Regions from separate parts of the Homo sapiens genome. Here region 1 is linked to region 2. The links come from fine-mapping of genetic effects on gene expression. Tissue or cell type: whole blood. Region 2 holds a variant in brackets; the other region holds the start of a gene. All regions are shown on one strand. Distances are between the middles of the regions.

Evidence for each region. PIP is the estimated chance that this variant, and not a neighbour inherited with it, causes the effect.
Region 1: DGCR2 starts here. The variant in region 2 is fine-mapped to the expression of DGCR2 in whole blood (TOPMed, PIP above 0.99).

Annotation. Positions count from the first base shown.
Region 1 is chr22:19,118,800-19,126,897 of GRCh38, forward strand. DGCR2 (DiGeorge syndrome critical region gene 2) reads right to left here and starts at 3,613. Exons shown (of 10, transcript NM_005137.3): 1 at 3,329-3,613. The coding sequence starts at 3,407. It also overlaps the pseudogene TSSK1A. RefSeq lists an enhancer at 2,972-3,473 and silencers at 3,258-3,377, 3,498-3,937.
Region 2 is chr22:19,051,367-19,059,466 of GRCh38, forward strand. DGCR2 (DiGeorge syndrome critical region gene 2) reads right to left here. Exons shown (of 10, transcript NM_005137.3): 6 at 5,620-5,796. It also overlaps the pseudogene RPL28P6. Among named protein-coding and RNA genes, the nearest start is that of DGCR11, 7.0 kb to the left of the region's middle. The variant G/A (reference allele first, on the strand shown) is at 4,808.

The sequences.
Region 1 (8,098 bases), 67 kb after region 2:
TAAAGCTAGAAAGAAAAACAGTTTTAGAATCAGCAGTCGATGCTGCCTTCTCTACACAGATGGAGAAAGGGCCAATGAGACAGTATCACAATCAGTGGTCCCCAAATCCCCCCACCATCTCGCTGTCAGTTACCTCAGCAGTAGTCTCCAACCGTTCTTCCTCATCACACCCCCAGTGATCATAACACACATCATCAGTGGTCACATGGCCAAACACAGAAGGGATTTGGCAGAGGGTGAGTGGTTCTGTCCCTCAGACTGGAGTATCCACATGGAAAAAGATTCTGCACCCTCACCTAGAGGACCCTGGGACCTAACAGGGGACAGAGGCAGTCTGTGGCTCCACCTGGGGTTAAGGAAGCTGTTCAGAGCATAATATGAGGTACTCCTGTGGCTGGGCTGGAGACACACAGTTGGAGTGCACAGACCCCAGTCACGGGTGCATGATGGGGGGAAGGCCAGACTCCTACGATGAAATCTCATCTCAGCCTTAGCTTCATGAGTGCTCTGGATTTCAGCTTCCCCATCTTTAAATGAGGCTAAAAACAGCATCTAGCAGGGACCTCTTGAGAGTTAACATATGTTAGTGCTTAGAACAGTGTCCGGCACATGACACATCTTAAATCAAGTTCAAATGTGCACTTAAAAAAAAATTGCTGGGCATGGTACCTCAGGCCTGTAATTCCAGCACTTTGGGAGGCCAAGGCAGGTGGCTCACCAGAGGTCAGGAGTTCCAGACCAGCCCGGCCAACATGGCAAAACCCCATCTCTACTAAAAATACAAAAATTAGCCGAGCGTGGAGGCGTATGCCTGTAATCCCAGCTACTCGGGAGGCTGAGGCAGGAGAATCGCTTGAACCAAGGAGGTGGAGGTTGCAGTGGGCCAAGATCACGCTACTGCACTCCAGCCTGAGCAACAGAGCAGGACTCTGTCTCAAAAAAAAAAAAAAAAAAAAAATTGGTGAAAGGTCAAGTACAGCAAGCACTTGCTGCCCCATAACTCCATGAAAGGCCTTCCACCCTGCCCTGTACCAGAGAGGAAGCCCAGGTGGCTTGGCATCATCTTCAGGGACCCCACCAGGCAGGAGTCAGAAAACACCCTCCTGAGAAGTGGGCTCTGACTGATACCTTCCTCATACTCAAGTATGCTTTTAAGGCCGGAATCCCCACAGAAAGAACGCAGACTAAGACCAGAGAAGCCCCAGCCTCTTGCAAGCACCAGCCAGGCAGATCCCTGCAGCACTCTCAGGAAGGACACATGGTGAATGTGTGAAGAGGCACACACGGGCATACAAGGAACACATCAGGCCCAGAGGCCTGCCCTCCCTGCCCAGCCAAAGCCAGGAAGCCAGCTGCAGCTCCCGGGTTCTGCAGGGCAACTCAAGACGCCTCCAGGGGTAGCTGCAATGTTCTCATCTGGAGAGTCATGGAATCGAAAGAATAAGTTTGCTCCCTCTACCAGATCCACCCCACCCATGCCCTACTCCGACCTCAGTGTGAGGTCTCCTGTGACGCCCTCACTGCTTCACAGGTACAAAAAGATGGCCACCTCCACCCACCTCTGGGACCCCACACTCCAGGGTATTCAACACACAGGAGTGTGACAAGTGACTTACACCTGGCCTCTGTTCCACATCAGGCACTCCTAAAAGGAGGGGCTTGTTCTTGTCACTTGGATTCCCTAGGGATGGGCAGGGGGCAAGCACCCACAGGCACTTTCTCAGTTGCTGCTGGCCAGTTGGCAGGCTATGTGAAAAGGCTGGCAAGGAAAAAGGAGTCGGGGACGTCAGTCACCTCTATCACCCAGGCAGGAGATGCTGGGCCTGGAACCAGAGGCACCCCAAAGAAGCCAGGCATAATATGGCCTCACCTGAGCCCGGTGACCTCATCTGCAAAACTGGGACTCAAGAATCAGAAAACGGTGACCTTCTACCTCTCTACACGTACATATATGTTTTCTAAAGAAGTTAATCACAAGAATCCACAAACCCATTGGTTCTGACCTCCAAGAGCCTATATGATACCCTCCTCCACAGGTAGCCCTTTTCCTGGCTTCTGTTCTTACCAAGGCCACCCCACAACTAGTCATCCCGCTGCCCAGAGAGCAGCCAAAAGCAGTGAGCAACTAGCTCTACATGGGGAGACCAGAGAAGCATCACTGAATCTGTCCAGGTTGAGCACCGGTCAGGGCCTTGGCCACCAGGCAGGCACTAGGGAGGAGGCAGACATTCCACATAGATGACACAAGCGCAGAGCCAAGAGGTGCGGTGTATCTGGGCTGGGAGCCTGGCTAGGGCACAGGAGAGGGCCACACACCCCGTGCTCCCACACCCAGGTCATCAGAGAAGATGGCCCTGGCACTTCTGCCTTCATGGGACCTTTCCTCCATTAAGAAATATTAAGAGTCATGCTTTTTCACTGTATTAGTATAAAGATGACTGTATTAATATACATACGAAAACATTTTATTTGACCTAAAAGTTCATTTTTTTTCTGCTGACTTTAAAAAAAAATAAAATAACATTCGAAGGCTACTAAAAGTACCGTGGGCAAGTGATACCAGGATTCCTGTGCCTGATGGATACATCGGCCCTGCATTTAGGGAGTTTGATTTTTTGGTGCAGTTCAAGGGGAGGTACACCGAAATAGGTAGAAAAGGGTCTCCTGGTTGCCACGGTTCTGATTCCCCACCACAGACTTAAGAACACACTAGCTCCGAGGGGAGTTCCAAAGCACGGACTCATTCATCACATACACGCAGCACGGCTAAGGGCCCCGCACAGTGGCGAGGTCTCTGCTCCCGGGACGCTCGCGCCGGCCACACAACGCTAGGCTGACTCCTGGTGCCTCCTCTAGGCCCGGTGGGACCTGAGGACTTCCTTAGCGCAACGTCTCACTGAATGACAGCCACAACCACCGCTGTCCAGGCGAGGAGTTTCCAGGACTGAGAGGCTGGCACTAGGCCACTGCTGGGAGGACGTCTGTGAAACCAGGTGCCCCTGAGAGCCACTGTCCCCAGCCCGACTCCGACGCTGGACTGGCGAGAGGGTGCGCCCGTGGCGTAGCTCCTGGCCGCCGCCGCTCCCGGGAAGGGCCCAGAGGCAACATCCTGGACAGCAGAGCTGCACGAAGTCCGAGGCGCCGCGAGCCCAGGTAAGCTCCAGCAGGCGTCCGCAGAGAGTGCCAGGCGGCCCGCGAGCCAGGCCCCGCCCGCCCCTGCCCCAGGCGCGGCCCCTGCAGGAGGGCGCCGCGGGTGAAAGGAGGTCCCGGGGCGACCCCGGCCCCGCTCGCCGCCCAGCCCCCACACCGCCCCCATCGCGCGGCGCACCTGGCCGCAGCGGCTCGGTGACAGTGAGCACGAGCAGGAAGAGCAGCAGGAAGGCGCCGCTGTCTGCCTTGGGCACCATTTATCCTCCGTTCATCGTCCCCGGGGCGGCTGGAAGGCCGGACCAGGCCGGACTGAGGGTCAGGGGACCGTGCCAAGCGGAGGGTCAGGCGGAGCTGAACCTGGGCGAGGCGCGGAGAGGCGGCGGGAAAGAGCTTCGGCTGGGCCGCGGGCTGGCGCACACTCTCGGCTGCAACCTCAGGCACCGACTCCAGCTGCGCGCAAGATGGCGGCCGTCCTGCTCGGCTCCGCGCCGCGCCGCCCCGCCCCGCCTCCCGCCCGCGACGCAGGCGCGGGCCAATGACCGTCAAGATGGGGGGCGGGGCCAGAGCCAAAGCCCTCCGAAGAGGGTGAGGCCTAAGGTCGCGACGGCGGAGGGCGGGGACCTAAGGGCGGGGACTGAGGGGCGGGCTCTAAGGGAAGGGCGGGACCATACGGAGTGAGGCGTGCCATTGGTTAAGCAGAGAGGCAGGGCCGGGGCCGGGGCCTGAGCGGCGGGGCCACCGAAGGGAGTAGGGTCTCTGGACGCCGGTTAGGGACGGCGGGCGCGGGACGGCAAGGATGGACATCGAAAGGCGCGGGGCATGGGGCGGGGCGCCGAGGGGTCGCGCGGGTGGGGAGCGGAGAGAACGAAGTGGGAACCTGGCTGGGACTCCAAGGGTCTTCACACCTGCAAGCTCAGGTCCCGTGAGCAGCCCAAAAGTGCGCCCCAAAGGGGTCTTTTTAAGGCCGAACCGCTGTGGAGGAGGGAGGGCCTGCCGGTTCTGAGGGTGGGGAAAGAGGAACAGGAATGGCCTAAGAGAGTGTCAGGCAAAGAGAGACCGGGAAGGCCAGGTCCTGGAGACTGCAGCGAAGCCGGCTCCCTGGAGGACCTGCCTACACAATGGCTAGGGGAAGGCCACATGTGCAGGAAAGAAAGCTAGGCAGAGAGGAGGCTCAGCGCCCCTGCGAACAGTGCTCCAAGTGCCACTTCTCCCGTCATCACCAACAGGGTGAACCTTGGAGGGCAGTGTCGGCGAAGAGTCCAACTCTGTAAAATATTTGAAGACATTTCTTCTGAGCCAATATGTGACCAATAGCCTGGGACACAGCCCCAGGAGATCCTGACAAGTGCCCAAGGGGGTAGGGCCACAGCTTGGTTTTATACATTTTAGGGAGACAAGACATCAATCAGCACATGTAAGATATACATTGGTTCAGTCGGAAAAGGCGGGACAACTTGAAAGTGGGGGGTGGAGGGGGGCTTCTAGGTCATGCGGATTGGCAGTTGGTTCAAAGAGTTTATCTAAAGACCTGGAATCAATAAAAGGGACTGTCTACATTAAGGGGTTGTGGAGACCAAGTTTCTTAGGCAAATGAAGCCTCCAGGTATCAGGCTTCACAGAGAAAAGACTGTTAATGTTTCTTATTAAAAAGTGCCAGACTCTGCCGGGTGTGGTGGCTCACGCCTGTCATCCCAGCACTTTGGGAGGCCAAGGCGGGCGGATCACCTGAGGTCAGGAGTTCAAGATCAGCCTGGCCAACATGGTGAAACCACATCTCTACTAAAAATACAAAAGTTACCCAGGCGTGGTGGCACACGCCTGTAATCCCAGCTACTCAGGAGGCTGATGGCAGGAGAATCGCTTGAACCGGGGAGGCAGAGGTTGCAGTGAGCCAAGATCATGCCACTGCACTCCAGCCTGGGCAACAGAGTAAGACTCTGTCTCAAAAAAAAAAAAAAAAAAAAGGAAAAAAAAAAGGAAAAATAAATAAAAGGTGCCAGACTCTAGTTAATTCTCTCAGGAGAAAAGACCTTGAAAGGGATAGGGATTCTCTACAGAATGTAGATTTTCCCCACAAAAAACAGCTTTGCAGAGCGACTTCAAAATATGTGAAAGAAACCTGTTTTGCAGTAAAATATGTGTTTCCTTCCGGGCCTGCTGTCATGCTGGTATCTTACTGCCACAGAGTCTGTTGTCAGTCTTCAAGTCTCTGTGTCGATGTTACACTGCTTAGCTGTGCCTGAAACCTGAAGGGAGGAGGGATAATGAGGCCTGACTCCCACTTCCTATCACGGCCTGAAATAGTTTTTCAGGTTAAGTTTGGAATGCCCTTGGTGGAGAGGAGGGGTCCATTCAGATGGCTGGGGGGTTAGAGTTTTATTTTTGGTTTCCAGGAGACAGTAGTTGGGGTGTCCCCAGCGGGAAGGAGAAGGAGGCTGTCTGGAAGGAGGAGAACCAAGAATGCACAAAGGCCTGGCAGTGGGCAGTCAGCGTTAGGGAAGAAGGTGAAGGAGCAGAGAAAAGGGGGAAGGGCCACGGCAGGTGGGGACCCAACCCAACATGAGTGACAACCAGCCCGCCCTACCAAGTCATCCTGAGGGGCCCAGGGTTCCACTTGGCTCCTGTGAGAAAGGGGTGCTCACTCCCTCTAGGTGGATGAGGCCAAAGTCAAATCCAAGGCTAGGATAGTCATGTGACTCCTACTCCCCTAGGGCATAGCCCGGAACAAGTGCTGGACACAGAGCCTGGCACAGCAGAGGGGCTCCACTGCCAGAAAAAACAATGGCCACACTCTCCAGTGCTGCCCCTGCTGCTTGTACTGTCCTCAGAGCAGCCACCAGTGCTCAGGGTGGCATCCAGTCCCCGCCTTTAGCCCCCAGCCCCAGATCTGCCCTGGGAGCCCAGCCAGGGGCAGAAAAAAAACTAGTTCATTGAGTGCCAGGGAGCCCTGCCCAAGGACATGGCGTGCAAGATGTTCCACCAACTCTCCTCAGCCATTAAATACTGCCACGACCTGGACATCATGCACCAGAACCTCAAGTGTTAGAACCTTCTCCTCGACAAGGACTTCAACATCAAGCTGTTCTACTTCAGGTTCTCCAAGCTCTGCCTGCGGGATGACAGTGGCCAACAGAGATTAAGCAAGAACTTCTGCGGGTTGGTGGCATATGCAGCCCCCGAGCTGCTGCAGGGCATCCCCTACCAGCCCATGGTGTATGACATCTGGAGCCTGGGCATGATCCTCTACATCATGGTCTGCAGCTCCATGCCTTACGACTCCAACATCAGGAAGATGCTGCGTATCCAGAAGGAGCACCGCGTGGACTTCCCACACTCCAAGAACCTGACAGACGAGTGCAAGGACCTCATCTACTGCATGCTGCAGCCCGACGTCAGCCAGCGGCTGCACATCCATGACACCCTCAGCCAATGCTGGGTGCAGCCCAAGGCACAGGGACTGCCCTCTATGGTCTTCAACAAGGAGGGGGAAAGCTCCCAGGGAACTGAACTCTTGTGGACCCCTGAACCTGGCTCTGCCAAGAGGTCTGCCACCAAGCTGGAGCCTGGGGAACAGACACAGCCCGAGGGACAGCCTGAGACAAAACCTGAGGGGTTGGCAATGCAAATGTCCAGGCAGTCGGACATCCTAGGCTTCCCCAGCAAGCCGTCGACCAGGGAGAAAGAGGAAGGGCCCCCCAGCAGCCTCCAGAGATGCGCACCTAGTGAGCCGTTTGTGGCCCAGTGTGCCAGCGGCGAATGAGATGGAGCTCACGCCTTCAGGCCCAAGCTCTGAAGAAGTCAAGGCACAAACCAGAGAAGGAAGACGGTCCCGGATGAGCCGCTGTTTTCATCAATTTCTTCTCTCTCCCCTTGAACTTCATAACCGACATTGCTAAAGGAGCAATAAATCACTATATTAATGCAGATGCCAAAGTGAATGTCTTTGCCTCAACTGACTAGTCCTGGGCTCCCCTCCACTGGTTTCCCACTCAGATTGTGCAATGATTCCTCGTTTGCTTGGGAAAACACATCCCAACGTGCCCAGTCCAGACCATGACCTCAGGCCCAGGCTGGGGCTGGGGCTTGGGCTGGGGCTGGGAGAGACCTGGAGGGGCAGGGGCCAGAGCTGAAAGGTGAGTGAGGAAGCCGCTGCCTCAGAAGGGACGCCCCCAAGTGCGGTGCTGGGGTCGGGAAAGGGCAGGGAGAGGACAGGACCAAGAAGCATGCCGAGGTACCCCTGTAGAGGAGCGCAGGCTTTATCTGCAGTTGGGACTGAGGGTCTGGGCAGACCTCTCCAGCCCCACAAGGCTGCCAGTGGGGGTTGTGGGAGGCTGCAGAGGGCAGGTGGCCAGCCTCTCAGCCACTCCTGAGCTCCCTACCCTGCTGGGCAACTCGTTCATTGTGCTCTGTCCATCAGAGGCCCCCTGTGTCCAGCCAGCACCCAGCTTTCAACAGTGCCGGGGTCGCCGCACCCTGTGGTCATTCTCTAGCCCGGGAGAAATAGGAGGCTCTGCTGGATGGCCCAGCCACACTCCAGCCTGAGCATGTCCCACAGTCTTGTGTGGTCTTGACCACATCTTGTTGTCCCCGTCCCAGCCTGTCCCAAGGGACGACACCCCTGCATTAGAAGTTGACACTGGCAAGTAGGATACGACAGGCAACCACAAAGGACAAGCGCTTTCAGAATTACCTCTCCCATGGCCTCTAAGTGGATGGGGCCAAAGTCAAACCCAAGGCTAGGACTGTCATGCGACTCCCACTCCCCCAGGGCGGGGCCTGAAGCAGGTGCTGGACACAGAGAATGTCAGAGCAGAGGAGCTCCACTGCCAGCAACATCGATGATCACTGTCCACAGTCTACCTATGGTCACTTCTCTACCTCGGGAAGACCCCAACCTCAGTCCCCTTGGAGAAGTAGGGTCTAGTGAGAGCCTGGACTGGCCCTCCTT
Region 2 (8,100 bases):
AAAAATATTTGCAAACCACATATCTGACAAAGGACTGGTATCTAGAATACATAAAGAACTCTCAAAACTCCACAGTTTAAAAAAGAACAAAACAGATCATTAGTTCACACCTGTAATCTCAATACAGGAGGATCACTTGAGCCTAGGAGTTGCGTTTGAAGCCAGCCTAGGCAACATAGTGAGATCCTATCTCTATAGAAAATAAAAAACTTAGCCAGGCATGACGGTGCACACCTACAGTTCCAGCTACTCAGGAGACTGAAGTGGGAGGACTGCCTGAGCCCGGGAGCTGGAGGTTACAGTGAACTATGATTGCACCACTGCGTTTGAGCCTGGGTGACAGAGCAAGACCCTTTCTCAAAACAAAACGAACAAACGATGCAAAGAGAAAACGGAAGAATAATGTGAACAACAGAGAATATACAGATGGCAAATAAGCACATGAAACATGAAGAGGTTTTAACATCAGTAGCCTCAGGGAAATGCAAATTGAAACCATAAGGAGCCACAGGTCTACATACATATCTGCATACCTAACAGAAGGGCTAAGATGAAAAATAGTGAAAACAGTAAGCGCTGGGGAGGATATGGAGAAATTAAATCACTCCTACGTTGAATCACTCCTACGTTGATAGTGGGACTATAAAATAGTACAGCCACTCTGGAAAACAATTTGCTTGTTTCTTTAAAAACTAAACCTGCAACTACGATACAATCAAGCAACTGTAATCCTGGGCATCTATCACACAGAAGTGAAAACACATTTGCAGCCAGGCGTGGTGGCTCATGCCTGTAATCCCAGCACTTTGGGAGGCCGATGCAGGTGGATCATCTGAGACTGGGAGTTCAAGACCAGCCTGGTCAACATGGTGAAACCCATCTCTACTAAAAAGACAAAAATTAGCTGGGCGTAGTGGCACATGCCTGTAATCCCAGCTACTCGGGAGGCTGAGACATGCGAATCGCTTGAACCCAAGAGGCGGAAGCTGCAGTGAGCCAAGACTGTGCCACTGCACTCCAGCCTGGGCAACAGAGAAAGACTCTGTCTCACACACACACACACACACACACACAAAAGAAAAAAAGAAAAAAGAAAACACGTTTGCACAAAAACCTGTATGCGGATGTTCACGGCAGTTTTCATTGTAATAGCCAAAGACTGGAAACAGCCCAGATGTCCTTCAACACTTGAGGCCTATAGTTTGAGACCAGCTTGGGCAACATAGCGAAATCCCGCCTCTACAAAAAAAAAAAAAATACAAAAATAAGTTGGGCACAGTGGCATGCACCTGTGGTCCCAGTTACTCGGGAGGCTGAGGTGGGAGGTTCACCTGAGCCTGGGAGGTTGAGGCTGCAGTGAGCAGTGATCACACCACTGTACTCTAGGGTGACAGAGACCTTGTCGCCAAAAAGAAAAAAAAAAGGAACAAATCATTAATAAAAGTAACAATTTGGATGACTCTCCAGGGAATTATGAGTGAAAAAAGCCAACCCCAAAAGGTTGCAACTATATGATTCCATTTATAGAACATTTCTGCCTCATGATGATACCTGACAAAGGCCAGACCACATATGACCAAAGGCCTCTGACCTACCACTTCTGTAGCAACCAGTCTAGGGCAGTCAGGATCTGGCCAGTGGCCACCAGCTTCTCTATTTTGAGTCCATACTTCCAACTGGAAACCCACCAGGGAAAGTCAAATATGTTCCCCAAACCAATCACCTCCACTGCCCTGCTTCTAGTCAGGCTGCCTCTAATCAGAGCATACCTGGAGCCTTTAGGGCCCTGGTGAAAAGCCACTGTGCTGGACCCAACTCCAGCTGCAGGAGGGTCAGAAGCACTTGTGAAGGCTCCACCCTGGATCCTCAGGGCACTGGGCCTGCTTAAGGCTCAGATACAGTTAGAACATCAGACCCTACTATCAGCATGCTAACAAGCCTTGAGTCACACAGTGGACTACTGCTAGGCGGGCTGCAAAAGACAGACTCTAGAGATGTAGCCCAAAGGGATGACCTCAAGTAGAGGGTGGAGCAGACATTAAGAAAAACCCTCTGGCAAACCAGCCTCCACCCAGAACAACAATGCTGCTAAATACGAAAGCCTGAGGTGCACTGAGGGCAACTACAGTGCCAACAAACCCCAAGCCCAGCCCAACTCTCGCCCAGATCAACGCCCTGCACTGTACTAAAGACCTCCCCACAAGAAAGGCCTAGTGGAAGTAAAGGCATAGCCACTGCAAGCACAAAACTACTGAACTCAGTCTCTATTGTCCCACACAAGATGTCAGAGTTCCAATGAAAAGCCTAGAAAAAAGTACCATGCTCCAGAGACAAAACAATCAAAAAACCAGACTCAAATATGACACAGATGAAGGAACTTCCCCACAGGGAATTTAAAATAACTACGATTAATTTGTTAAAGGCTCCAGTGGAAAAGCTGGACAATATACAAGGTTAGATGGGAAATTCAGATGAGAGATGGAATCTATAAGAATCAAATGGAAATCCTATAAATAAAAAAACAGACAAAATCAATGAAACAGATGAAGAATACCTTCAATGGGCTCATAAGCAGACTTGACATAGCCAAGGAAAGAATTAGTAAACCTGAGGACAGGTCAACAGAAATTACTCAAACTGAAGGACTAAAAGAATCCAAGAGACATGATGACTAGATGCAATGCATGATTCTGGACAATGAAAAAAATAGCTATAAAGGATATTATTGGAACGACTGATAAAACTGGAATAATGGATTGTGGATTACTGTATGGTACTGTATCCATGCTAAGTGTTCTGATTTTGATCCATATAGTGTGGGTACATAAGAAAGTGTCCTTGTTCTTAGGAAATACACACTGAAGTATAAAACGCTTAATTAAGGTCCACAGTATCTTCAGTTTACTCCCAAATGATTCAGAAGAAACATGTAGAGAAAGTGAATGATAAAGCAAATGCAGTAAAACTGAAATACTGTAACTGGTGAGTCTGTGTAAATGGTGTATGAAAGGAAGTTCCTTGTATTATTCTGCCTTTTCCATAAGCTTGAAATTATACCTAAATTAACAAGTTACAGAAGTCTCCCTCGCCTGACCCAGATGGTCCTATAAGGTGGTTCTATCAAACACTCAAAGACAAGTTTATCTCCAACTTGGACAAATGGATTTAGAGAACAGTAAAATAAAATGTTTGCCAACTCATTTTAGAAAACTAATATAGTATAATACAGAAATGAGTCAATGTAGTCCCAGCTACTTGGGAGGCTGAGGCAGGAGGCTCACTTGAGCCTAGGAGTTCAAGACTGTACTGTGCTATGATCGTGCCTGTGATTAGCCACTGCATTCTTGCCTGGGCAACACAGTGATGCCCCACCTTAAAAAAAAAAAAAAGAGAGAGTCAAGGAGAGTATAGAAAAAAATGTAACAGGCCAACCTCACTTCTTAAAAGAGTTTCAGGCCAGGCACGGTGGCTCACACCTATAATCCCAGCACTTTGGGAGGCTGAGGCAGGTGGATCACTTGAGGTCAGGAGTTCAAGACCAGCGTTCAAGACCAGCCTGACCAACATGGTGAAACGCCATCTCTACTAAAAATACAAAAATTAGCCAGGCGTGGTGGCACATGTCTGTAATCCCAGCTACTCAGGAGGCTGAGACAAGAGAACTGCCTGAACCCGGGAGGCAGAGGTTACAGTGAGCTGAAATCACGTCACTGCACTCCAGCCTGGGTGACGGGGCAAGACTCTGTCTCAAAAAACAACAAAGAGTTTCAAAAATTCTAAATATCAGCAAACCAAATCCACCAATATAATATATTATATATATATAAACCATGAGGATGGTTTAACATAAGAAAATCCATTTATATGAAATAATGACTGAACAGACTGAAGAAAAACTACATAACCCCAATAAAATCCACTAAAAGCATTTAATAAAAATCAGTACACTTTTGTAACACAAATATTCCCAGCAACCTAGGAATAGGTACTTCTTTGACTTCATACAGGTACATTCTAAAATCCTATAGAAGGCATTCTGTAGAATATTGATACATTAAAATAGCATTCTAAGTTGAGAAGACAAGAATGCTCACTACCACCATTTCTAATCATCACTGTCCTGGAGACTGTAGCAAGAAGAGTTGACTGGGCAACATAGTGAAACCACATCTCTAATAAATGTAAATAAATAAATAAATGTCAAAGATTTGAAAGAAGAAACAAACCCATCTAAATAGAAAATCAACAAAATCCACAAACTAAGAGAACCAATAAAGGAGTTTAGAAAACATATCCTAAAATTCACATAGAAAAGGGTCAAAAATAGGCAACATAACAGGCAAGAACAAGGCAGAGGAAGTCGTAACACCAGCAGTCAAGATTTATCATGAAGCTCTCTCTGTTGCCAGCCACCTGGGAGGAGCTGCCGCCCCGGCCGCACATCTGCAATGGATGGTCGCGAGGAATCATCCGGCCTGATCAAGGGGAATAAGCAGACCCACAGCACTGAGCCTGAGAACTTAAAGGCTGCAGCTCCTTCCACTACAACGAGCTGATTCACTGCAGGACTGTGGGTGTGGACCCGGCAGCTGATGGCAAAGGTGTGGTGGTGGTCATGGAGTGGAGATCCGGCCAGCAGAAGCCAGCCACCTCCTATGAGGGGACCACCGTCGGGTGGACACGGTGGCTCACACCTGTAATCCCACCACTTTGGGAGGGCGAGGTGGGCGGATCACGAGGTCAGGAGATCGACACCATCCTAACACTGTGAAACCCGCCTCTACTAAAAACACAAAAAATTAGCCGG[G/A]CGTGGTGGCAGGCACCTGTAGTCCCAGCTACTCAGGAAGCTGAGGCAGGAGAATCGCTTCAACCTGGGAGGCGGAGCTTGCAGTGAGCCGAGATCACGCCACTGCACTCCAGCCTGGGCAACAGAGCGAGACTCTGTCCCAAAAAAAAAAAGAAAAAGAGGACCACCGTCAACAAGAACGCCTGCACCATGCTCGGCAACATCACACACATGATCCGCAAGAACAAAGCCTCTCCCCAACCTGCGCACAGCTGCCATCCCAGAGCCAGCGCCATCCTGCGAAGCCAGAAGCCTGTGATGGTGAAGAGGAAGGGGACCTGCCCCACCAAGAGCTCCTGAGACCCCTGTCCCCCAAAAGCAATAGAGTTAGCTGGCTTTAATAAAAAAAAAAAAACACACACACCATAGACTGGCAAGGTAAACAGAGAAGCAGAGAAGCAGAGAGAAGGATGGCAGAAATGGGGGGTGGGGAGGTGACAAACAGCCTTAGATGCTCCAGAGATGCCAAGTCCTTGGGTCCTCATTCCCATTTACTCTCTTAACAACACTGCAACAGGGAGGACAGGGATGATTGTCTCTTCCGTGGGAAAAGAAGCTGGGCTCTAAGATGCTTCCGTGGGCTCTAAGATGCTGACCAGCTGCCCTGGTCACAGAGCTGCAAATGGGCCCCAAGAACAAGGTGTGAGCTGGTAAGGGGCGTCCACCGCAACACTGCAAATCAGGTTCTGCCTCCGAAACCTTGAACTCAGGGTCCAACAAAGTGACACAAGGGCCCAGACATTCCCCAAGAACGCCAGCTCAAGGGGGCTTACTTCTTTTACACAGAAATGAAGACTTCTCGTAGCAGCTCTCGGCGTGCCAGCTGTGGAGGTCGTGGTGCCGCAGGGTGGGGAAATGGAAGCACTGAAGCTGGGCACAGAACACGTTGTCGTTCTCAGACATGGCCGAGGCAAAGATGGGGTCTGGGGGCAGGAACACCTCTGAAGAGCCTGTTGGGGAGACAAAAGGTGGGGCTGGACAACATCACATCAGAGGACAAGCTGTGCAGTCCTCAAGGGGACCATGGCGTCAGACAGGATCATCAACCACAGGGCCTGGACCGCCAAGTACTGGTGGTCACTGTGGCCAGGTGTTCACTCGGGACTCCCCAACCTCCTGGGAGTCACCCCAGGTGCTGGGCCTAGCGGGAGCCACTCCTTGGAGCCTGCAAGCACACAGGCCACAAACCCTGGGTAGCAGTAAGTGCCAGCCTGAGCACCAGAAGAGGGTGCTGGATCACGGTTAGTGGGTGGCATTTAAAGTTAGAGCAACAGCATAATAACAAAGTAATGGATTGTGGCACACTGGATTAAAATGCAAACAGGGGAATGGGCAAGGGAAACAGGCAGGGAAGCTCTCCCTTAGGACAGCACACTCAGATAAACAGAAGACTTACAAAGTCCACCCAACACCCAGGAGAAAGGCGCCGTCAGGCAGCATTGGCACTGGCCGGCACTGCCAGCAGCTGGCTGCAGGGAACACTTAGGAAGCACTGGCTCCCGGGGACCTCTCTCAGCTCAAGGGAAACTGTCACCCACTCAGCTCCTGCCTAAGCCAGGCACAAGGCAGTCAGAAACCGTGTACCCCTGCCGCAGAGAGCGTGAGGGTTGGGGACTGCTAACCTCCAAGCCTCTCTTTTGCAAGGTTCCAGGTGGGCTCTGGCCATGCCCAGGGCATGGCACAGCCAGCCCTAGGCCCCACTCTCTCCCCTGCACGGCCCTTCCAGTCTGGGCTGCCAAGATTCCTTGAGGCTTACCCGACCAGGATCAATGGAAACACAAAGCAACCTTTCCAAGAAGCAGAATAATGAAGGCACACCTGGTGCTCTCCCCCTCCTAAGACAGCAGCAGTGCAGCTCACCCCATTTATAAGCCTCCAGCATTCTCACCTGCGTCTTTTGGAGCTCTGTTTATACCCAGCACGAAACATGGGGCTCTGCCTCAAAAAAGCCAGTGAGTCTGGAGGCAGGCCTATGCTGTGGGCCTGTGGACACATGGTGCCCTGCCATGGGCAGGAGGACAGCTCTCAGGAAGCTCTGAGACCTGCAAGACCTGTGCCAGGCCAGCAGGCAGCCACAGCAACAGCTGTGCCCCCTTCCCAGGGACATACAGGCCCAGCATCTCGCCTGCCTCATCTGCATCTATCAGACCCACAGCAGAGCAGGAAAGGGGCCCACTGTCTGGAGTCACCTCCCCATACCACCTGGAGGGCTGGTCTCCACTGCTGACAGTGGGTGCCACCACCATCACGCTGTGCACCACCCCACCTTTCCTCCAGGCCCCCGAGCCCCTGCACACCCTCCTCATCTCCCACAGATGCCTTCTCACCTAAGTAGAGCCCCTCCCCTTTTAAACACTGTTTTCTTCACTATTTGCCTTCTTGTCCCGTGGCAAGAAAACCAAACAGGTTCCTTCCAATCTTTAACAAACAAAAAATCTTCAGCGCTGAAGCTAGTTGCCAGCTAAGAGCTCCTGCCCACAACTACAGTACATGACAGCAGACTGAGACCAAGGACACAAATGACCTCTCCGGGCAGAGTCCTGGGACCCAGCATTTGCCCACGAAAGCTGCCTGGACCGGGGCACAGCAAGTCAGAGTGAGTCAGGCAACCAGCAAAACAGGGTTCGTGTGGCACTCTAGGCCAGGGCCCAGAGAGCCACACAGTGCTCCCTCCTGGCAGCAAGCTGCATGGGCACCTGTGTAGCGCCCCTGCCCAGGGGAGCTGCTGGTGGCTCTGCATCCAGGTGCTGAATGGGGGCTGGTCATGCGGGCACTGCATGCCTACCCGAGGTGCAGCCTTGCAGAGCGGGCAGGTGTTCGTCTTTGGAGCATCCCTGGAAGAGGTCACAGTGGCAGCCATGAACAAGGCAGCCTGTGGGGCTGGAGAAGAGGCTGGGGAGTGGTAGGTGATGAGGGTAGTGAAGGAAGGGGCTGCTGGCCTTGATGGAACTGTGATTTCTATGAGAAACGAGAGCTGTGAACAAGGGAGCAGAGGTGAAAAGGACCCCCAGCAGCTGTGTGAGGAGCGGTGGGGCTGGGGCCAGGAGACCAGACAGAGGCCACGAGCACAATCGGGTGACGGATGATTGGGTGTTAGATCCCGGTGGGGGCTGCAAGACTGGTGCCAGGTGATGAGATCCTGGACATATTCCAAAGGTGTGAGAGGAGCCTGGAGGCTTCCCGATACTGCACTGGGGATGACTCCTGCAGATTTTCCTCCAGGGCCTCCCACTTCCTCCTGGACACCCCCTTAC